Homo sapiens: one gene and its partners. The protein of the gene in region 3 purifies or fractionates together with the protein of the main gene of each other region. This does not show direct contact. Each region holds a gene or a part of one and is shown on either strand. Other genes may lie near its edges.

Region 1 (3,880 bases), on a different chromosome or scaffold from region 3:
GAGTAGAAGTTATGCCGTTTTCCTCAGCGTGACCCTGGCTCTTAGGTCTCTGCACTCAGGCCAAAGGACCCCACCCAGCTTCCCGGGCCTGCAGCTTGCAGACGGCAGATGATGGGGCCTCTTGGTCTGCACAGTCACGGGAGCCAATCCTCACCCTACATCTCCTCTTGGGTCTCTCTCTATCCGCCGGCTCCTTTCCTCGGGAGAGCCCTGACGCACACACTAGCTGAGTTTGCTTTTCAACAGGCCTTTCCGTCTGGGGCAGGTCAACACCCCACTCCGCCACACACACAGCTGTACCCGGCACAACACGCGGCCACAGGTCACCTCAGGTCGCCTCGGGTGCTCCTCCCGCAGCCCCACGTAGACAGAAGACATTCCTCGGGCCTGGGTGCCCAGCCTCCCGCGTCCTTCTAGGGAGAAGCCGGATTTCCTGTAGAACCTGTGTCTTCTCCACCCTCAGCCTCCGGAGGTTCGGAGGCACTCACTGACCCCGCCATGCAGGCGGGCACACGAGGCAGGCGCTCCTAAGGAAAAGGGGGCGGCCAGCGGCCCCCACCGCTGGGTCACGCTATCCCCTCTGCCAGAACCACTGGGCCACTGGGTCCCGTTAGCGTTCACTCTGTCAGACTTGAGTTTTCTGTAGCTGAAAATCAAAGATCTCAGCTGCTAACAGGGCTGGCGAGCCTCAAGCTGCTCCTGCAGCGACATCCCCAAGTCCGTGTGGGTACAATGTGCCAGGGCCGGCCGCCAAGCCCAGGAGCCTCCCCACAGCACATCCACACACGCGCTTGTTTTATTTTTATTTGTTGTTGTTTAAACTCACACTGAGAGGCACAGAACGCCCGGGGAGGGTGCTGCGTGCAGAGCCGGGACCTCACTTCCCGGGTTCCGATTCCGCCTCGAGGACGCGGGTGCGGCAGACACGGCCCAGAGCCCTCGAGGGCCACGAGGCACAGACGCCCCCACCTCGGATCTTTCTGGATTCCTGGGGAATCTGTCGTCTCTACAGAAGCTTGAGTTCATATTACTTAACAGTTTCTTTTAAATCGACTCATCTTTTAAGTTAAATTAATTCGTTTCTTAAATAAGTGATGGATTGGCACCAACAATAGAAAACATGTATCGTTTTACTAGTAAATATCAGTAAACAGAATGGAAATGGGATGCTGCATTGAGAGTATGGCCAGGTGTGTCTGTTAGCAAAGCCCGTGTGCCTGGATCCGTGGGACACGGTGGAGGAGGTGGAGGGAAGCTCCCTCGGCATGATCTGATTCTCTCCAACTCCATGTCCCTGGGCCAGCTCAAGGCCTCCGCCCCCACCAGGTGCCCTCGGGGTTGGAGAATCATCAGCCCACCCTCATCTCAGAGGCGAGGGGAGGTGGGCGGCGCCAGCGGGGGGGTCCTTCTGCTGTGCCGCGTGCCTCCTTCAGTGCCCACAGGGCCCCCCGAGGCTGTTGCTCCGGGCATCCCCCCTTTACAGATAGGGAAACCAAGGTGCAGGGGTCGTGTGACCGGCCCACAGTCGTGCAGCTGAGGAGGGAGGAGCTGGGTTTGAACCCAGGCGGTCGACGCCACAGTCAGTGAGGCAGGTGCCCAGGGTGGACTCTCGCTCCAGGGGCCTCCTGGCGTCCCAGCGGGGAGGAGGGTGCCTGGCAGTGGGTGGAGCCAAACGCTGCTCAACATCCACAACCCACCCAGGGGGCGGCCCCGCCAGGAAGAACTGCCCCACCTGTGTCAGCCCTGACTGAGGGTGCCTGTGGGTCCGGAGTCGAGGCCCCTGTTGGTCCAGAGTCGAGGCCCCTGTGGGTCTGGAGTCGAGGCCCCTGTCGGTCCGGAGTCGAGGCCCCTGTGGGTCCAGAATCAAGGCCATGGTACACCAGCTGCTCCGGAGACCTTGGTTTCCCGTCTGCTAATGAGTCGCCCGTCTCATCTGGGTCCTGGCAGATCCGAGTGAAACTGAAAATGTGCTTCAAGCAGCTAGTGAGACGGGCACCACCAGAGATGGGACCTCAGTGCCCCCACAAAACAGGCACCCACAGTGTCACATCCCTCGTCAAGAACCTTCTGGCATGGTCCGGAGCCTGGGAGTGCAGCCAGCACCCTTCCGGGGCCAACAGGCTGTCCTGGCAGCCCCCTGCCCTAGCACCTCACCATCTCCCTCACTCACTTCGCCCTGACCACCCCAACCCCAGGGCCCACTGTGGCCTCTGCACCTGCCACCGACACCCAGCACTTCCCCCGGATTCTCTCCTGGCAGCTCCTTCTCCTCATTCACAATTCAGAGAGTGGCTCCCTCCCCACCCACCTGTGTGTGTCCCAGGTCACTGCAGTGGCACCGAGTGGGGAGGCTCCACCCCACACACCTGTCCCCTCACACACCTGTCCCCTCACACAGGAGCCCACACACCTGTCCCCTCACACACCTGTCCCCTCATACAGGAGGCCGGGAGTTGGATGTCAGGCGCGCAGGGCCACACTCCCTCTGAAGGCAGTGGGTAAGACACATCCTGCCTCTCCCCAGCCCCCGCCTCGGCCCCCTGCACCACCCCAGCCCCCGCCTCGGCCCCCAAGGGGCGTCCTCCCCTCCAAACCCCCACTGTCTCTCCTCGTCTTAGAAGGGCCACAGTCATTGGATTTAGGGCCCACTAATCCCCAGTCCTGGCTGAGGGCATCTTATCTAATTACTTCTGCAAAGACCCTGTTTCTAAATAAGCCACATTCCGAGGTTCCAGGTGGACGTGAGCTTCCGGGCGGGCCCCGTTCAACCCGTAACCATCCCCGCCACCCAGATACCCATTCGTCCACGTCACTCAGGCCTCCTCGTAGGTTTGTCTGAGACCATCTGGACCATGCAACTTACTCACTCCCCGTCTTCCTCCCTGGGATGTCAGCCCCTGAGGTGGGGACATCTCTGCTCAGGCCCGCGTCCTCAGCGCAGTTCAGGAATGCAGCAGGTGCTCACGAATTCGCCAGGAAGGAACGGACATGCGGCACATGAGGTGGTGCCGTTGCTCACTGAGACAGGCCCTCAGCTCATAGGGGCTGGGCCCGCAAATGCCAGTTCGAGCACAGCAAGCACCCAGCATCCCCGTCCGTGACTCAGTTGCCCCACAGAAGGCTCCGGGAGGGGTGAGTGTTTGCACAGGGAATGGGGGCGTCTGCCCAACCCCAGCTCCTGTCACCCCTTCACAGTTTGCCCCCTCCTACTTCCAGAACGTAGGAAGCACCATGGCGTCCCCAGGCATGGGAGGGGGGTTTGCAGGCTCTGCGAGGATGGAGGTGGGAGCAGGCCTGGGCGGCTTCCTGGGAGGGCCTGGTGAGCCCAGGGGACCGGGCGCAGAGCCCAGGGCCGAGCTGCTTCCGTGCTACGAGATGATACAACCCTTGGCACCTTTTAAACGACTGGAAAATGAGTTTCTCCTTCCTGTGAATGGCAGCTAGAGGGGGGACTGTCAGACTTAGGCTGACACCAGTCCGCTTGCTGAGTGGCGGGGCGGCCATCGCTCTCCTGGCCGTCCCGTACGGGAAAGCCCAGGCCACAGGGGCACTTCCTCGGGCTCGAGAGCCGTGCGTCAGCCTTGCCCCCTCCTCCAGCGCCTCCCGGCTTCTCCACCTCCTTGTCCCTTCACAGGCATCTGTGCTTGCTCAAGAGAAAATGGGCTGCTGACCACACGGGTCTCAAGACATGGATCCCATCCTGCCCGTTTGTCCTCAGTGGGAGATCTGACATGGAAATTTACAGACTTATTTTTGTCAAGTTTCCAGCCAATGAAGGATAAACTGTCCTTTCAGAAAATAGTTCCAAGACTCTGAAATATGCAGGTTGCTGTGCTGAATTGTAAATGCAAACACTCAGCCCAGCACACGCCGACGCTGG
Region 2 (3,880 bases), on a different chromosome or scaffold from region 3:
CTCTCTTCATCTGTGAAATGGGCCTAATGTGGCAGCCTTTCCCCCAGGGCTATGGGGAGAAGTAAAAACTGTGAATGCAAAGGACCCACACGATGCCTGCAGGGGCTCAGCAATGGCAGGCAGAGCCCAGCGAGACCCAGGAGGGTCAGGGCGGCAGTGGTGAAGGGCAGAGGGCAGCGGTCTCTAGTTTGGCCACTGCTGGGCCAGAGGTTCTCAGGGCCACCCTAGACGCTGGCCAAGGAGTTCTCAGGCTGCCGTTAGTCCTCGAACCTCCCCCCATGAGACAGGGCTTATGCTGGCAAAGGGGGGCAGTACACCGCCCAAGAGAGGATTCATAATTTATTTATGACATTTAACAAAACCCAGACATCACCTCATTGGTGTCACATCAAAAGAAAGCATCAGTCCTGAGTGGGGAGTGGAGGGAAGAGACGGGGATAGATGAGGCATTTACCCCAAGTGACTGGGGCCTGGGGGGAGTCACCCTGGGGGTGCAGGGAAAGCAGGGAGAGGCCCAGGGCATGGGTGGGGAGGAGGAGGACAGAATGGTGAGAGGGGAAGTCAACCTGGGGGGACAGGGAGGGACAAAAGAGAGAAAAACGGCCAGACAGAAAGGGAGAGGCAGGGGCATGACCTCAGGGGAGACGAAAACTGACAGATATGGGGACAGAGGGAGAGAGAGAGACAGGGAAGGAGAGTGAAATAAGGACAGAGCCACAGAGATAAGCAAAAGCCCAGAAAGTTAGACAACACACATTGTGTTCAGTACCCAGCTCAGAGAAGATATTCCAGAAGTCTCTGATGGGTGGACGGATAATTGTATAGTGAATGGATGGATGGTGGATAGGTGGATGGATGAATGCATGGTGGATGGATGGTGAATAGATTGATGGATGATGAATTGATGGATAGATGGTGGGTAGATGGATGGATAGATGGATGGATGGTGGGTGGATGGATGGATGGATGGATGGATGGCAGATGGATGGACACTGGACGGATGGTGGATGGGTGGATAGTGGATGGATGGTGGATGGGTGGATGGACGAATGGATGGTGGATAGATGGTGAATAGATGGATGGATGATGAATTGATGGATAGACGGTGGGTGGAAGGATGGATGGTGGATGGGTGGATGGATGAATGGATGGTGGATGGATGGTGAATAAGTGGATAGATGGTGAATTGATGGATGGATGATGAATTGATGGATAGATGGTGGGTGGATGGATGAATGGTGGATGGAAGATGGAGGATGGACGGATGGATAAATGGATGAATGGATGAATGACGGATGGATGGATGAAAGATGAATGGATAGATGGATGGATAGATGGTGGGTGGGTGGATGGATGGATGGTGGATGAAGGATGGATGGTGGGTGGGTGGATGGATGGATGGTGGATGAAGGATGGATGGATGGATGGATGGATGGCAGATGGATGGCTGAATGGATAATGGATGGATGATGGATGGATGGTGGGTGGATGAATGGTGGATGAATGGATGAGTGGATGGTGGATGGATGCATGGATGGATGGTGGATTGATGAATAGATGGACAATAGGTGGATGGATGGATGGCAGATGGATGGATGGTGGGCGGATGGTGGGTGGATGAATGAGTGGTGGATGAATGGATGAGTGGATGGTGGTTGGATGCGTGGTTGGATTGTGGATTGATGGATGGATGGTGGGTGGATGGATGGATGGATGCATGGATGGATGGTGGATGGATGAATGAATGGATGGTGGATGGATGAATGGATGGTGGATGAATGGATGAGTGGATGGTGGATGGATGCATGGATGGATGGTGGATGGATGCATGGATGGATGGTGGATAGATGAATGGATGGATGACGGGTGGATAGATGGATGAATGGTGGGTACAGGAATGGATGGATGGTGGGTGGTGGATGAATGGATGGAAGCATGAATGGTGGATGGGCAGATGGATGGATGGTGGATGGGCAGATGGATGGATGGTGGATGGGTGGATGGTGGATGGACAGATGAATGAATGGTGGATGGATGGATTGGAGGATGGATGAATGAATGGTGGGAAGCATGGACAGATAGTGCATGGATGAATAGTGGATAAGAAGAACAAGAACAAATGGATGGATGGATGGATGGATGGATGGACGGACGGACGGATGGATATACATATGGATAGATAGGTGGATGGTGAATGGTTACTTGGTTGGTTTTGTGGGTCGACGGGTAGATGTGGGAGAGCAGGTAGATACATGGATACATGGATGCATGGATGGATGGATGGATGGTGGGAAGCATGGACGAATAGTGCATGGATGAATAGTGGATAGGAAGAACAGATGGATGGATGGATATGGTATGGATATGGATTGATAGGCGGATGGTGAACGGTTACTTGGTTGGTTTTGTAGGTGGATGGGTAGATGTGGGTGGGTAGGTAGATGGATGGATGGATGATGGGTGAGCGACTGAATGAACTGATAAAATGATAGATGGATCCTATTACCTGATCAACTTGGAATGACAATGAATAACCCACTGGCCAAGCCACTGGGCAAAGTGTGCTGGTCATTTTGTCTCCCTCCTCCCAGAAAAGAATGTTAAATACAATCAGGCTCCCTGGGACCCCCCTACCAAACCATGCTTCCACAGGGGTAGGGGTGCAGGCTAAAATGTCATGGCCTTTTGGGAATCATGACTGTCACTCTCTCCTGGCCCCTGGACCTGAGGAAGCAAGCCTAAGATACTTACACATCTAGGGCCAATTGTCACTGGGGCCAGAGAGGTAACGGTGCCTAGTCCAGACATTGCCCATTCTGGGCTCACTAGCTTTGTCTGTGATTGAGGAAAAGCTGGGCCAATGAGGCAGGGAATTTGCCAGCCCAGCAGTGGCCCTAAGAGGGCTGAGAGCCACATTTTCTGAAGCCCTCTCCTGCTTCCTGCCACCCCTACCTTGGGCTTCACAGCCCTCCTCCCACCCAGGCTCCTACTCCCCTGAGCTTACTGGCTAAGGATGCAAGTATCAGAAGCATTTCCTTGGAGAAGGCAGGACAGCTGCCCTCCTTGGCTGGTGCTAACTACACCAGCCACAGTTTATTGAGCACCTATCATGTGCTGGGCACTGTGGCCTAATGTTCCACATGCACTGTCTCACTGTTCCTCATAATAACCCTCTATGAGGTAGCCAGTGCTATGTCCCCATACTACAAGTGGGCACACCGAGGAGAGGGCTGCCTGGCTTGTCCAAGACCACTCAGCTAATGCTCAGAGCTAGAAGCCAAGGCCTCATCCCACCAGCTCTTGACCCCTGGCTTCAACCAGCCACCCCAACTCCCAGGAGAATCTGGCAACTGCTGGTCCCCCAACCAGAAGAGGCACCCGCCCTGCCTTCCTCCTAGAAGCTGGCTCAGACACCTGCCTCAATGCCAGAGCTGGCCAGGGCAAACCTCCCCCTCCCCACCATCACTGCACGGGAAACAATAATTCACTGCTGAGAGTGAGCAACTCCCAGGGGGAGGTGGGAGATGAGCAGAGTCAAAGAAAAAAGATCGGACAAGTCATGAGTTTAATAGCCGTAGACTGAAAAATCATCATGACAGCTTCCAAAACACTAGCTCCTCCAGCCACAAACTTCCATCTTTTGGAACCAGCTGGTTCTGGTCTTTGGGGGTCACCGCCACTGAGCTTGGACTCAGGGCTGCATAGGGGCTATGAGGAAGAGCTCAGGGTGAGTGGGGGGCCAGCAGTGCGACTTGACAGGAGGCCTGGCTAGGGCTGTCTTCACAGCCAGAAGCTGGGGTGACCTAGAGAGTCCCAGCCCTCAGACACTGAAACCACAACCATCTCTCAGGAACGCATGGTTTCAGGTGCTGGGCATGGC
Region 3 (3,880 bases):
GTTTCAGCTTAGTCCCCTGTCCCCTGAGCTTCTTTTAAATGAGAAGTTCTACTGAAAGGCCCAGTTGATTCAAGTTAAACATTTTGGGCTAGAATATATATGATGTTCTATGCTTCTTGTGTCACTTCAGGGACCCCAGTCATATTTTGTTGCTTCAATACAATAGATGGCAGTCTGGTCTTTGTGTGCATTATGTTCTTTCTGTGGACTGGAATGCAATGCATTTAACACCTGTTGATGATCCTGGTCCTAGATGGTAGTTTTATTTGGGGGCTTGCTGTGAATGAGGTGTTTCTGATTCTGTCACATGTAGATTGTTAGCAGACATTCTTCTGTAAACTCTTGTTTTACTCAGCAGTTGGGACTGTTTGGTTTCTCTGAAATATAGTGCCTCTGGGAAAGGCAGGATAGTTTTATCCTTTCCTTTGAGCTGTGACTTTTCAAAGTGAGTAGTTAGTTAACCTTTCCCAATGGTGATTCGTGAAATGCCTTTTTTTCTGACTTTCTTGAGCACTTCTGTGGATCTCCTGTGACTTCGTGTGTTTGGGTCTCTACGGCCATTTGTCTTTCTGATGCTCAAATGTTACAACATCCAGGTGCTCCTGGTGCTTTTGTCATGACCCCTCCCCTAAAGGGCCTGTGAGGATGGGCCCATTCTTTGAGCATTTGTCTCATTTGTCTTTGAGCATTTGTACTTATACTTTTCTGTAGGTTCTGAAGTTGGCTTCGTGAGCTAATTCTGAATGCACTGTTACCTCACAGGACTGTCCATATCACGCGATTATGGACTTGATACGTCTTTATGCTCACTTCTTAATACAGTCTGCACTTTTAAATAAGTGAGCTATGCTGCACAGGTAAAGAAAGTGTTTTGTATGACTACACTTTCTACACGCTTTGTGAAGTAGCTGAGAGCAAAACAGGAGTAGATTTTTACTTCTTTCAACTCAGAGAAAAAGAAGAAAAGTAATCTTGGGCCACATGGACTTTACAATTTTAGAAATGGAAAATGTTTTTCTTGTACACCTTCTCAGTGTCTGATTTTCACTTTTTGATACAGTTTTATTTAAAACCCTCTGCCGCCCTGCACTTCATCAGGATTCTGCCCCAGGCCTTGTTGTTTCTCTCTCTCCTGTTCCCTCCCTGTCATGTTAGCCACCCCAGCCCCCGCCCCCCCGCCCACGTCAGGTCAGGCAGACACAGTTGGAGCTCTCTGCGTTATACTCCTTTACCACTTCACAGTCATTATTCATAGCACCTACCACCCATGAAAGACAGTAGTTTCTTGTGAAAAACAATTTTACAAAATATCTGTGTTTCTCAGTTGTGAAACTGTGAGGTTGGGATCCCATCTGTCTTATCCATGGTTGGGTTCCCAGAGTCCAAAAGGAAATATTTGAGGGTTGGATTAGTGATGACTGCGAAAGGATGAGGTAGATTACTGTTCTGTGGAGCTTGTAATTGTTTTGTCTTAGGCCATTTTACCTGCACGTAAGGTGGAGGCCTTCCTTCTACGTTTCCTCCCTTCCCTACCTGCTGCCAGCAGGCTTTGGAAGTCAGCCGTTGAACCCCTGCTCTGAGGATGCTGCTGCTGTGGGAGGTCTCGGCTCATGCATTTCTGGCCTCTGGACCCCTTTCTGGGACCTGCGTGCTCCTCTTCTCTCCATGTTCACCTGCCCCTGAGAGTTACCAATACGCAGTGTGTTTCTCACACTACTGCCTCTTTCAGCTGATTGTGAGGTTTTCCTGACACCCTTGTCTACACTATAGGTCTTTTGCATAATTTTCTCACTCTAGCAAGTGTAACTTTTTGAGTGAAAAATGATTGATTCCATCTGAGAAAAAAATCCTCTATACGTTCTAGATCTTTGTTTAACTGCTTTGAAAGGTATTTAAAGAGTAAGAAAAAAATACACTTTTCTTTCATTCCCTAAGACGAATGGATTGAACAATAGCGGTAAGGTATAGTTTAAAAAGACGGTGTTCAAGATGAAGATTCTTTTTTTTTTTTTTTTTAATTATACTTTAAGTTCTAGGGTACATGTGCACAACGTGCAGGTTTGTTGCATATGTATACATGTACCAATACTATGCAGCCATAAAAAAGGATGAGTTCATGTCCTTTGCAGGGACATGGATGAAGCTGGAAACCATCATTCTGAGCAAACTGTTGCAAGGACAGAAAACCAAACACTGCATGTTCTTACTCACAGATGGGAATTGAACAGTGAGAACACTTGGACACAGGGCAGGGAACATCACACACTCGGGCCTGTCATGGGGTGGGGGGCAGGGGGAGGGATAGCATTAGGAGAAATACCTAATGTAAATGACGAGTTATAAATCATGCTACTATGAAGATACATGCACATGTATGTTTATTGCAGCACTATTCACAATAGCAAAGACTTGGAACCAACCCAGATGAAGATTGTTTTACTTTGAAGTACTTTTTTGTTTCTTTATATGTACTCATGAAGCTACATGGGTTTTAGAATCCTTACGTTTAGGCTTTGCGTACATATAGAGGATGTAGATAGTTATTTGTTGGGAGGTCTCCTCTGTTTATTTCTTATGAATCTGTAATTTTGACTTGGATTATTTCAACCTTTTCCTCAGATTTCATACTTAAAGGGTACTCCATCAAAACTTGCTGAGAGCTTTATAGTCTGTCCTCTGTATCCAGGGGTTCTGCATCTGTTGATTAAACCAACTGTCTGTTGAAAATATTTGGGAGAGAAAATGCATGGTTGCATCTGTACTGAACATGTACAGACTTGTTTTCTTGTCACTGTTCTCTAAACAAGGTAAGTAGGAAGATGTGCATAGGTTACATGCAAGTAACTGCACGATTTAACATAAGAGACTTGAGCAGTCTTGGATTTGGTGCCTCCAGGTGGTTCTGGAACCAGTCCCCTATGGATACCGAGGGATGACTATACTTTCATTTCTCTTTTCCCCTGTAGATTTCTTAGGTACCAAGTAATGTCATCAGGTTCATTCTTTTTCCTTCCTTCCTTCCTCTCTTTTCTCTTTCTCTTTCTCTTTCTTTTTTCTCTTTCTCTCTTTTTTTCTCTCTCTCACTCTCTCCTCTCTCCCCTCTTCCTCCCCTCTCTCCTCTCCCCTCCCCTCTCCCCTCTCCCTCTTTCTGTCTCTCTCTCTCTCTTTCTTCTTTTCTTTTTCGATGGTGTCCTGCTCTGTCTCCCAGGCTTGAGTGCAGCTCACTGCAACCTCCACCTCCCGGGTTCAAGCAATTCTCCTGCCTCAGCCTCCCGAGTAGCTTGGAGTACAGGCATGTGCCACCATGCCCAGCTAATTTTTGTATTTTTTGGTAGAGATGGAGTTTCGCCATGTTGGCCAGGCTGGTCTCGACCTCCTGGCCTCAAGTGATCCACCCTCCTCAACCTCCCAAAGTGCTGGGATTACAAGCATGAACCACTATGCCCGGCCTTATAATCTCATCAGGTTCTAATTAAATATTTCTTTATCTTCTGAATTTACATAATCTCTTTTTTTTCTCCCTTTTTAAAAGGACCTTAAAGGCTTTGATCCAGGAGAGAAATACTTTCATAACACATCATGGGGTGATGTTTCTCTCTGGGAACCTTCTGGAAAGAAAGTGGTATGTATTTTTTGCATTTGTTTTTCATGTTTCCTCAAAAGTGAGCAGTGACTGTAAATGTGGTCTAAAGAACATCACATGTATTGGGGTTGCTGGTGAGTGAATGGGGAGGAGGAATAATGCAACCTTTCAGAGAAGTAGCAAGAAACCAAGTATAGTGTGTGGTCAGGCAGGGTTACTGATGCTCTGTTCTGTGTGCAGAGTTGATACAGTGATGCAGTGAAACTGTTGTTTGTCCTTGATTATAAGATATCATTG
Region 4 (4,334 bases), on a different chromosome or scaffold from region 3:
AGACGGCAGGGCTGCAGGGGAGTGGATGCCAAGCTGCCTGGCTCCCTGCTCCTCTAACTCACCCTGGTCCTGGCTCCTTGGGGGAGCCCCCCGGACTCTCTGTCCCCATCTGAGTGCCCACCTGAGGGCCCCATGCAGCGCAGCTGCTCTCCACAAGCCTCAGTGGTCCCTTCAGCCACCAGGACTCTGACTCCCCAAGAGGGAGAACCCTGTGCCAGGTTGCCCCCATTCCTGGGCCAGGCACGGGCTCTCCAGGCTTGACCTATATGGGGCCTTGCCCCTGCTGTCAGCAGCTCATGTGCTGGGTTGGGCCACGAGGGCCGAGGCCAGGCCTCCTGTGGAACACCCAGCAGAGATGTAGCCTCAGGATCCCTGACCTCTGAGAGGGAGTAGAGCCAGGGGCACTATGGGGCTGGGACTCCCCCACACCTCAACTCCCAGAGCCTGCCATGTGACCATGAGGCCACAACATCAGGGGTGGAGCAAGGCTGGCGCTCTGTCCCTGCGAGTCCCGGGGGATCACACCCAAACCAGCTTGGCAAGGACTCTGGCTGCTCCACTTCCTGAATGACAACACACACTCAGAGGGGCGATGCCTTGCTCCTGGTCACGCTGGATCCAGATTTTGAGGCCACTTTCCCTCCTATACCTCAACTCAGGAAAGAAACAATGCGGGGAGCTGTCCCTAGGGAGCGAGAGCTCAGGCTTGGCCCCAGCCTCAACCACCGCTGCCCCAACCCAACCCGCGCCGAGCCCCTGGCCTGAGGGTGTGGGAACCCCAGCTGCTGAAGGAGCTGCATACAGGTGTCTGGAGGCGCCTCTCAAGTCAGCCAGCGTGGCAGGTCAGGAGGAGACAGGGCAGGGGACGTGAGGGCAGGGGATGCAGGGTGGAGGGCGCACAGCGGGCTGGGTGAGTACCATGTTGATGCCCATGGAGGTGAAGCTGAGGCTCGTGGTGCTGGGTTCCAGGTGTCCCCGGTGATGAGAGACTGACAGGGGACGGGACAGAAGGGGACTCCTGAATGTCCCCTAGGGCTGCCATCTTCCCTGAGACCTGCTGAAGGTGTCACACCTGGGACCTGGGGAAAATGAAAACCATGGCAGATGAGGGGATTGGGAGGAATGTCGGGGGGATGGTGCAGGAGGAGGCAACATGCCAGCTCTCCAAGGGGAGATGGAGGTTTATCCACTCCAGGAGGAGCAAGGATGGAGGATGAACCCACAGAGACACATAGGCCTGGGGTGAGGCAGTTGGGGGACCTGGCACATTTATTCAGTAAGGAATAACGCTTTGAGTGGCTGGGGACGGTGGCTCATGCCTGTAATCCCAGCACTTTGTGAGGCCGAGGTGGGTAGATCATGAGGTCAGGAGTTTGAGACCAGCCTGTCTAATATGGTGAAACCCCATCTCTACTAAAAATATAAAAATTAGCTGGGCGCAGTGGCGGGCACCTGTAATCCCAGCTACTTGGGAAGCTGAGGCAGGAGAACAGCTTGAAATCAGGAGGTGGAGGTTGCAGTGAGCCGAGATGGCGCCCCTGCACTCCAGCCTGGGAGACACAGCAAGACTCAAACAACAGCAGCAGCAGCAGCAGCAGCAAAGGAGTAACGCCTTGGAAGGCGCGCTTAGGAAGCAGCCACCGCCTGGGCGGCACAGCAGACGCCTGTGGGGGCTGAAGCGAAGCTCCTGTCCCAGCAGAGGCTCTGGCATCTCCTTCCAGCCCGTGGCATCACCCCTCCCCCAGAGAAAGGCATAGGGAGTCTTCCAGAAAAACCTCAGCTGCTGGCCCTGTGGGAGGGCTGAAAACCGAACCATGCCTGCTGCGCATGAGTGTTTTGGAGGAAATCTTAATAAGGTTTTTCCCGAACAGCAGAGAAGAGACGTTTCCAGAGGGCAACTCTCTTCCTCAGACCCTACAGAGCCCTCAGAGACTGCAGGCTGGAATCCCCTAGTCCAGCCCTGCAGCAGCACTGGGAGACTCACTCAGGGCTCCAAGACACTTCTTAGTTTACTTTGCAAAAACGGCTTGAGTCCAATGTGAAAAGTGACTTTTCTTTCATACTGTGATAGAGTAGGAACTCCTAATCTGGGGCAGGGAGTGAAGAAAGGAACGGGAAAAGAGGACAAAAGTTAACGGATACTCAGATCTAAGAACAGCAGACAGTGCCTGCTTCGAGGAAGTGGGAGAGGCAGCTCCCACACGGCCGCCACCCCAGTGCCCGGCTTCTGGGCCAGCCTCCATCCCCTAATGATGGGAAGGGTCAGGTCACCAGGTAGGTGGCCACTGGGTGCAGGTCCTCCACCCTGAAGTCACATCTCAAGTTACTTAGTTAACTTACTGGGGACACCTGGTAAAAGGGCCTGCTCGATCACCCCGACCCTGGCTTGGCCCCCAGGACTGAGCAGAGGCGACCATCACAGCGTGGACGCCCCTTCACCCCCAGGGACGCACAAACTCTGAGCTCCAGACTGAAGGGGGAAGGGCACTCCTGCCAGCGGCTCGGGGGAAGCATCCTCTGCCCCTCTGTTCCCAGCCCCGTGGGAGCGGACCCAATCGCCGGGAGCTCGGCACAGAGCGCGTCCGCCCGGCGGTGCGGCGCTGGGGTCCGGCGGCTCCTCGCTCCGGAGCGGCGGGACCTCCGGGCCTCAGTTTCCCATCTGCAGAGTGGCGATGACGACAGCTGCCGTCACTGGGTGCCTGGGAAAGGCGCCCTGCGAACGGACACCCGCTATCGCCAGGGCCGCTGGGCGGGGCGGTCCGCTGCTGCTCCGCGACCCCCAGGAGCCCACCCCGCTCCCCGGGCTTGGCCCAAGGCCAAGGTCACGGCGAGCGGCGGCTGCAAGGGCCGCACGGCCCGGCTGGGCAGGGCTGCACCGCGGAGTACGGCGCACGAGCTCGGACTGGGCTGGTCCCAGGCACCCGGAGCCGCCGCCGCCGCCCGCGCCCACTCACCTTCCGAGCGGGAGGAGGACGCCGCGCGCCGGACGGAAGTGTCCGGCCCCGCCCCACTCCGCCCGGCCGGCGCGCACTTCCGGGACGCTCTGGGCCCCGGGAGGACCGCACGCCTCGGTGGCCGTGTGGGGGCGGGGCCGGGAGCGAAGAGGAGGCCTTTCCCCGCCCCTCCCCTCGTGGGCTGCGCCCGCGCGTGGCTTTCGCGTACACGCTGGCCCGGATCCCGCCCGCGCCTGCAAAGCGCCCGGGCGCGGGGAGCGGCGCTGCGTGGGGCGCAGAAGCCGGCGCCTCGGAGCCTCCTTCCCGACGCCGGCCCTGCACCGCCCGGGGAGCCAGCGCGGGGCCGGGCTTCGGGAGATGACGGCGCCGTCCCCACGCTGCCCGCGGCCCCTCCGTGCACTCCAGGCCTCCGGGGGTCCTCGGCTGGAGTTGCTTCCACGTTCAGCTCGCGAGTCCCCCCCGCCGCCCTCTTGGGTTCCCTCCTCGGGATGTGTCCGCAGCGATGGTCACCGGCGGCCGGGAACCGCTGCGAGACGCGCGACCTCCCGCTCCCCTCGCGGGGGCCCCAGCGCCCTCGATTCTGCCTGCTTTCCAGGGGCGTCCCCGGGAGCCTGAGGAGGATGTTACAGGTTCCCCAAAGCCCCTTCATGGACTCCTTCCTCATTTTCCTCTTGTTCAGCCACAGTTTCTCCCTCAGTTCTGTGCTTACGACCTGAAAAGAGAAAATTGTCACTTTCTGGGAAAAATAAACGGCCGGGGAGGGTTCTTTGACCGTTTTGAGCAGGGGTGCAGAGAGCCGAGGCGAGGGGACCCCTGAGCTGGAGGGGCACGCGGAGCAGAGGGCGGGGGGGCCTGCAGACGGGCAACAGCTGCCAGGGTGGACGCTCAGGGCTGTGTGGGTGGAGGAGCCCCCAGGCTGATAATATGTAAAAATCTCTAAACTCTACCGCAAGAAAACAAACATTCCAGTTAGAAAATTGGCAAGAGCCGCAACAGACGTTTGACCGAAGAGGGCACAGGGATGGCAATAGGCTCGGGAAGGGATGGCTGTCAGGGAAGGGCCGGCCAGCATCGCGGTGGGTGCCACTGCACACTTGCCAGGTGGCTCAGGTAAAAACTGCTAACAAGTGCCAAGCATCACTGAGGTCGCGGAGCAGCTTGGGACATCGCCAGTGGTAAGGCAAAGTGGTGCTGCCATTCTAGAAATTGGCTTGGTAGTTTCTTAAAAAGTTATAAGTAGCGCCGGGCGCAGTGGCTCACGCCTGTAATCCCAGCACTTTGGGACACTGAAGTGGGTGGATCACCAGAGGTGGGGAGTTTGAGACCAGCCTGACCAACAGGGAGAAACCCCATCTCTACTAAAAATATAAAAAAGCTACC

Evidence for each region.
Region 1: the proteins of ADNP2 (region 3) and GALNT9 purify together in Homo sapiens (affinity purification with mass spectrometry; one large-scale study listed by BioGRID and IntAct). This does not show direct contact.
Region 2: the proteins of ADNP2 (region 3) and CHD5 purify together in Homo sapiens (affinity purification with mass spectrometry; one large-scale study listed by BioGRID and IntAct). This does not show direct contact.
Region 4: the proteins of ADNP2 (region 3) and GLI4 purify together in Homo sapiens (affinity purification with mass spectrometry; one large-scale study listed by BioGRID and IntAct). This does not show direct contact.

The regions. Positions count from the first base shown.
Region 1 is NC_000012.12:132,319,413-132,323,292, forward strand, and holds part of GALNT9 (polypeptide N-acetylgalactosaminyltransferase 9), read right to left. Parts: intron 1-3,880. UniProt on the Homo sapiens protein: Catalyzes the initial reaction in O-linked oligosaccharide biosynthesis, the transfer of an N-acetyl-D-galactosamine residue to a serine or threonine residue on the protein receptor. Does not glycosylate apomucin or SDC3.
Region 2 is NC_000001.11:6,173,563-6,177,442, forward strand, and holds part of CHD5 (chromodomain-helicase-DNA-binding protein 5), read right to left. Parts: intron 1-3,880. UniProt on the Homo sapiens protein: ATP-dependent chromatin-remodeling factor that binds DNA through histones and regulates gene transcription. May specifically recognize and bind trimethylated 'Lys-27' (H3K27me3) and non-methylated 'Lys-4' of histone H3.
Region 3 is NC_000018.10:80,129,571-80,133,450, forward strand, and holds part of ADNP2 (activity-dependent neuroprotector homeobox protein 2), read left to right. Parts: intron 1-2,619; exon of another isoform or gene 2,620-2,807; intron 2,808-3,532; coding exon 3,533-3,622; intron 3,623-3,880. UniProt on the Homo sapiens protein: May be involved in transcriptional regulation. May play a role in neuronal function; perhaps involved in protection of brain tissues from oxidative stress. May be involved in erythroid differentiation.
Region 4 is NC_000008.11:143,266,105-143,270,438, reverse strand, and holds the start of GLI4 (zinc finger protein GLI4), read right to left. Parts: upstream 2,995-4,334; 5' UTR 2,955-2,994; intron 1,080-2,954; 5' UTR 1,043-1,079; coding exon 919-1,042; intron 1-918.